Linked DNA regions of Homo sapiens: region 1 is linked to region 2. Evidence: fine-mapped expression QTL. A gene starts in region 2. The other region holds a variant in brackets. All regions are shown on one strand. Distances are between the middles of the regions. Region 1 holds the start of LOC107984321 (a long non-coding RNA gene). Region 2 holds the start of LINC01616 (long intergenic non-protein coding RNA 1616).

Region 1 (2,931 bases), 37 kb after region 2:
CAGCGCTATGCCCCGGACTGCTGGAGCAAATCCGACCTTGGGCTGGTTGGTTGGCGCCAGGACTGTCACTGTCGTCCTCGGGGCGGCAGCTTTGTTCAAGGGCTCTATTGGGCCTCCTCCTTTTGTGATGCTCAATTAATTATTAAGGGAAATATTCCCGAGCTGAATTATAGATATGCCTTGCACTCACTCACCTAACCGTTGCGGGCTCGGAAAAGGACACCTGGAGGGCTGCTTTTTGTTGCTGTTTGATTTTTCTTTTATCTTTTCAAATAACCGGACACACACACACAAAATCGAATTGTAATCAGTGTGAAAGAAAAAGAAGAAATGAAACCTGGAGTGCACCCTGGTTTTTCCAACGTCTTTCAGCTAGTGCAGCTTGAAATTTTGGCATGAATAAGTTTAACTGTAACCCCCTGGCCTCAACCCTGGTGGAGCTGAGAGAAAGGTATCTTCATGCTGGCTCTAGAGACGTTCTTTGCCTCAATTTATTCCCTACTGCAGTTCATTCGAAGAGCAGCAAGACCGGGTTTCTCTAAAAGTGAGAACGATCATGCTCACTCGCCTCAAACCCTCTCTGTACCTCCACAATGTGATATCACTGTGCAGTTTCATAAGTACCAGAAGCAAATAACTGGTAATATTTATTGTTGGCTCATTAGAAGGATATTTCTTGGGATAGTAAAAAGCAGGACTGGGACCTGTTTCCCAAAAGCAGTTTATGAGATCAATCCGGTACAGCTATGCAGTGCTTTCAGGGAGATGAAAAGTGAGATGGAATGATGTACTAGAGATGATAGTTGTATTGAAGCTTGGATATTTTAATTGAGTCGTGTTTAAACTTTATGAATTATGCTTCCCTTTTGCTGTTTGTTCCTATCCCAGATAATTTTAAAGTTTTCAATGCCTGAGGACTTTAATATTTGCATTTCTTAGGTGTTGGTAATCTGAATTACTAAAATACGACAGGAATGCTGCTGAGGAAAAACTCTACTCTCAGGAGGACTTGCGCAAGGCAGGTAAGATTAACTGAGTGTCTGCCTCCTACCTGGCTCTGTGCTAAGTTCTTTGAATGTATATTATGTAATTTTATTTGCATAACTAAATGCTTTTTTATGTGATAAGTACTATTATAACCACTATTTTATAGAAAAGGAAATGAAGGCTTACAATGATTAGCTAACTTGCCCAAAGGTTATATAGCTAATTATGTAGCAGAACAAGGCCTTACATATCTGACTCTGCAGTGTAGACTGACCCCGTGCTAGTGATGTGGTCTATGCCCATTTGTTCATACAAGCTAGTGGCTGTCACAGATGCATATACAGATTATGAAGCAAGGGGATTTGTGTTATGATGGAGGTATGAGAATGTTGCTCCTTGGTGCAAAGAGTAAAGCAGCATCTAGTGTGGAGGCGGTAAGCAAGAATTCCCAAGGAGAGAGAGCACTGTCTGAAAAATCATAAGAGTTGGAGTGGCCGCCATGGAGAATGCACAGGCACATAGTGCTGGGATGGAACAGAAGCAACTAACTGGAGCTAGAGATAGGTTAGGACCAACTGGGAAGAGCATGCCCCCTCCCAGCCTTCTCCCACCACATGCACACACACACCCCTACCTCTTTGCCCATTTAAATAATTAATTCATAAAGCAAACAAGAAACATTCTATTTCTCTCCTTGAAATTATCCTAGGAATTTCTAGGAACCCATAAACAGTAGCAAAAAGATTCTTTGATTGAGACCAATAAAAATCTACCTTGTCTTAGTCCCCAAACCTTGTTTACTTTTTATTTTCTTTTGAAATGGGTTCTCA[T/C]TCTGTCACCCAGGCTGGAGTGCACTGGCATGATCACACCTCACAGCAACCTCAAACTAACTGCTGGGCTCAAGTGATCCTCCTGCCTCAGGCTCCAGAGTAGCTGGGACTACAGGTATGTGTCACCATGCCCAGTTATTTTTATTTATTTATTTATTTTTAGTTTTTGTAGAGACAGGGTCTCATTATGCTGACCAGGTTGGTCTCAAACTGGCCTCAAGTTCTCCTCCTGCCTCAGCCTCCCAAAGTGCCCACCACGATTACAGGTATGAGCCACTGTGCCCAGCCCCTCTTTTCTATAAAGAGGAAAAAATTATTTTCTTGCCTTTCTTAGTCATCAACTAGTCAAAATTCTTTAAGCTCTCCACCACCAAATACACCTATTACCACAAAGAATGTATCCCTGGCTTTGAATTCTCTCAGTGGTGGTACAAATGTTCCAGATCACACCGTGAAGCCTTTGCTTATATAGAAAGTGGCAGAGGCCAACAGATCGTCTCTGTACAAAGCACGATAGGAAGCCCTGTGGGATACAAGCTAGGCCCATTATAAATGTTTTTGTTCTCTTTGAGGACTGTGGTCCACAGTGAATTGCAATGTTCTGTTTACTCCTCTATCTCCCCAAACATGCCTGTGATACTTCACTGAGAACAGACATTATATCCTGAGCAACTAGCGTTGTACTTGACCCAGAGTAGAATGTGAATGAATAATGGAAGAGGCTTCCCTTTGCCAAGAAAGTTCAGTGAATGTGTTGTGAGAGAACTAGAAGATTGCTTTTTCACCTGCTCACCCCAGCCTCTCAACTATCTATCTCACTTTTAAAGTTCTGAAGTGATGGGCGTGGGGGTGGTGAGAAGGCCTTGGAGATTTGGTTCCATGCTCCCATATCCAAATTTATGGATGGGGATATTTTGATCAGCCCATCATTCCTTATAAAATGTGAGTCACTCAGCTAGTTTTTTCTTGGGTTTTTCAATGACTGTTCACCACCACTTCCTAATTTATCTTACGCATATAGGCACTGGTCAAAACTTAAGATATCAGAAGAGCATATTTGTTTCTTACTATAATTAGTGTTTTATTCCATTTCAGCTGCTATAATAACAAAATA
Region 2 (2,931 bases):
GTCACTCTCGTCAAGCTCAGACCATAGCCTTGAATCTTTCTATAGACATCCCTTTAGATATTGAAGAACAAATGTATAGAGTTAACACAAAAGGCAAACCTTAATTGTTATCCCAGCCTTAAACAATTAAAACCCCTTCTGAATCACTGATACATTTTCACATAGAAAGTCAGTTAAGTCTTTGTCCTCGGCTGAGGACATGAATGTTGAGATAGGGAAGGGGTTAAATGAGGTCTAACTAAGCATTCCACATGTGTATTTCCCATTCAATATTATTGCTTACAGAACAGAGATCTAAACTCCCCTACCAAGGACCTCTCAAAAGGCCATGGGATATTTTGGACACATAGCAAGTGTCAAAGCATATAGGTATTTGCTATTTTATTCTGAAAATATGTTTGTGTATCTCTCATAGCCAGGAAAAAGTATACAATGAAAAATAAACAGATTATTAGTAATATACAAGTAGATCATCTGGCTTGTATAACTACTTACTCAGCTCCAACTTCCAGTGCCCTAAGGTGAAGCCTCTCTAAACACCTTACCTCCAGGCCAGGTGGCAGAGGTTATCTTTAACACTTTTCACCTAGGAAAGCACTTAAATACATCTGGAGCCTTACTGCTCGAAGACTGCTAAAACACCAGTAGCATCAGTATCACCTGGGAACACGTTAGAAATGCAAAATCACTGCCCCCATGGAGACCAACTGAAGTAAATTCCGCATATTAACAAGATACCCAGCAAATGTACAGGCATATTAAAGTTTTAGAAGCATTAACTATACTCTTAGAAGCCCAGATCCAAGAGCTATTTCATAGAATTTCAAAAAAAATTCAAGAATGCTTATTTCTAATCCTGTAAATATCATTGACCAAATTCTATGAAACAAAAATCCAATAAGATACTCTGCCAAAAAATAAAAGGAGGAGGGGTTACATTTAAAAATGTGAGAAAGTCCACACATCATCCTCATGGAAATTCACTACACACATTAGCAGATTGTAGGCTCTGAGAAGTACCACAAAGAAACTAGTTTTACTGTTTAACTCAAAAATTCAAAAACAGTTCCTTTTTCAACTACTATTAACTGCCTATAGAGATCCTCTGAGAAAACTGCTACAGATTATAATTCCCTGTAGCATACATATATATATATATATATATATATGCACACACACACATATATATATATGCAACACAGGAAATATATATATACGCACACATATATATATGTGCAGCACACAGAAACTTGTACTACCTCATCCATGGGATCCATATTATAAGACAGAATTACAGTGAAGTCCTTTTGCTATATCTGGTTAAAACTAAAAAAGTAAAAGAAAAATGAAAATCTTGGTTAGGGCTCCAGAATTACCTGTATCAAAGTGAATTTTTGGTACATTAGATGGTATTCACAAGGCTCCTGTATATTTGCCTAGAGTCAAAGTACAAACAGGGACCTAGAGTTTGAAACTGACTCATTTTAATATAGCAGCACATCCTAAAAAAGATTTTAATGCCTTCAGCTCATGCTTTAGAGTTAGAAGTTCTTGGAGTTATTGTATTGCTCAAGATGATTCGCAAATACTGAGAACAGAATTCTGCCCTCACTTGTGACTATTTTATATCATTCACAATAAGAACATAATTGCTGTATTAGTCTGTTTCACACTGCTATAAAGATACTACCTGAGACTGGGTAATTTATAAACAAAAGAGGTTTCATTGACTCACACTTCTACATGGCTGGGGAGGCCCCAGGAAACTTACAATCATGGTGGAAGGCAAAGGGGAAGCAGGCACCTCCTTCACAAGGCAACAAGCAAGAGTACATGCACGCAGGAGAAACTGCCATTTTTAAAACCATCAGATCTCGTGAGAACTCCCTCACTATCACGAGAACAGCATGGGGAAACTGTCCCCGTGATCCAATCACCTCTTACCAGGACCCTCCCTCACCATGTGGGGATTATAATTCAAGATTGGATTTGGGTGGGGACACAGAGCCAACTCATAATCAATTACTCCCTGAAAACTGCAATAAATAAATAAGTCAAGTACAGGGTATGATCCAACACTCATCTGGACTAACCATCCCATAACACCCACATTCATATATTTAAAGAAAGCAGATAGAACTTAAATAGGGTAAAGCCACAGCGGAATGAGAAACTGGGTTGACAACAGGATGAAAAAAACATTCCAGGTCCTTATACTCCCCAACAAATCATCCCACCCCAACACATGTCAAAACTTGGTTAGATGGATTCATATATATTCTTATCAAATTCCCAGTTTCCATCTCTTCCAAAAGACATATTGAGTAGGTTCTAAAATTTCACAAAGCTTCAATAGTTTGTAGACTTTTACTTTTATCTTCTAGACATTTAGCCTAAAGCAAAACTTCAACCTGTTGTTAAGAGTAGCCAGGGCCCCCAGGGGAATCCTGTATCTTTGACCCACGCATCACTCATCTGCCCACTCACAGATGAGCAACACCTGATCATAGGAGCATGCGTAAACTCTTTTTCTCTTCCCACAAACCTCTATTTGTTGAAGTCCAAATGCAGAGACAGAAACAAAATAATGACATGGGTTCCTTTCTGGAAAGGCAGATGTTTCCTCTCTTAATCTTCATCACCAAGATCTTGCAAACAGTGAGTTAATGGTAGAGGATCTCTTTAATGAGAATTCCCAGCCAAGAATGGAGGACCAAGCCATGTCCGCATACAATTGCTATATCCCAAACCAAAAATAGAGGCCCTGGGAATGTTTTATTATGAGCCAGGAAGAAAAAAAAGTACAATCACATTGCCGAAGTTTCCCCCAAATATAAACACATCCTCTTACATCATTCAGAGCTATTAATAACTATTAATTAAGAGCTATAAATAACTATTAAGAACCCATAATACTTTATACTCTAATCA

What was found. PIP is the estimated chance that this variant, and not a neighbour inherited with it, causes the effect.
Region 1: its variant is fine-mapped to the expression of LINC01616 in lung (TOPMed, PIP 0.95).

The regions. Positions count from the first base shown.
Region 1 is chr11:30,018,663-30,021,593 of GRCh38, forward strand. It overlaps LOC107984321 (a long non-coding RNA gene), which reads left to right and starts at 1,902. Exons shown (of 3, transcript XR_001748159.2): 1 at 1,902-1,932. The variant T/C (reference allele first, on the strand shown) is at 1,818.
Region 2 is chr11:29,981,281-29,984,211 of GRCh38, forward strand. LINC01616 (long intergenic non-protein coding RNA 1616) reads right to left here and starts at 1,113. Exons shown (of 1, transcript NR_132652.1): 1 at 1-1,113.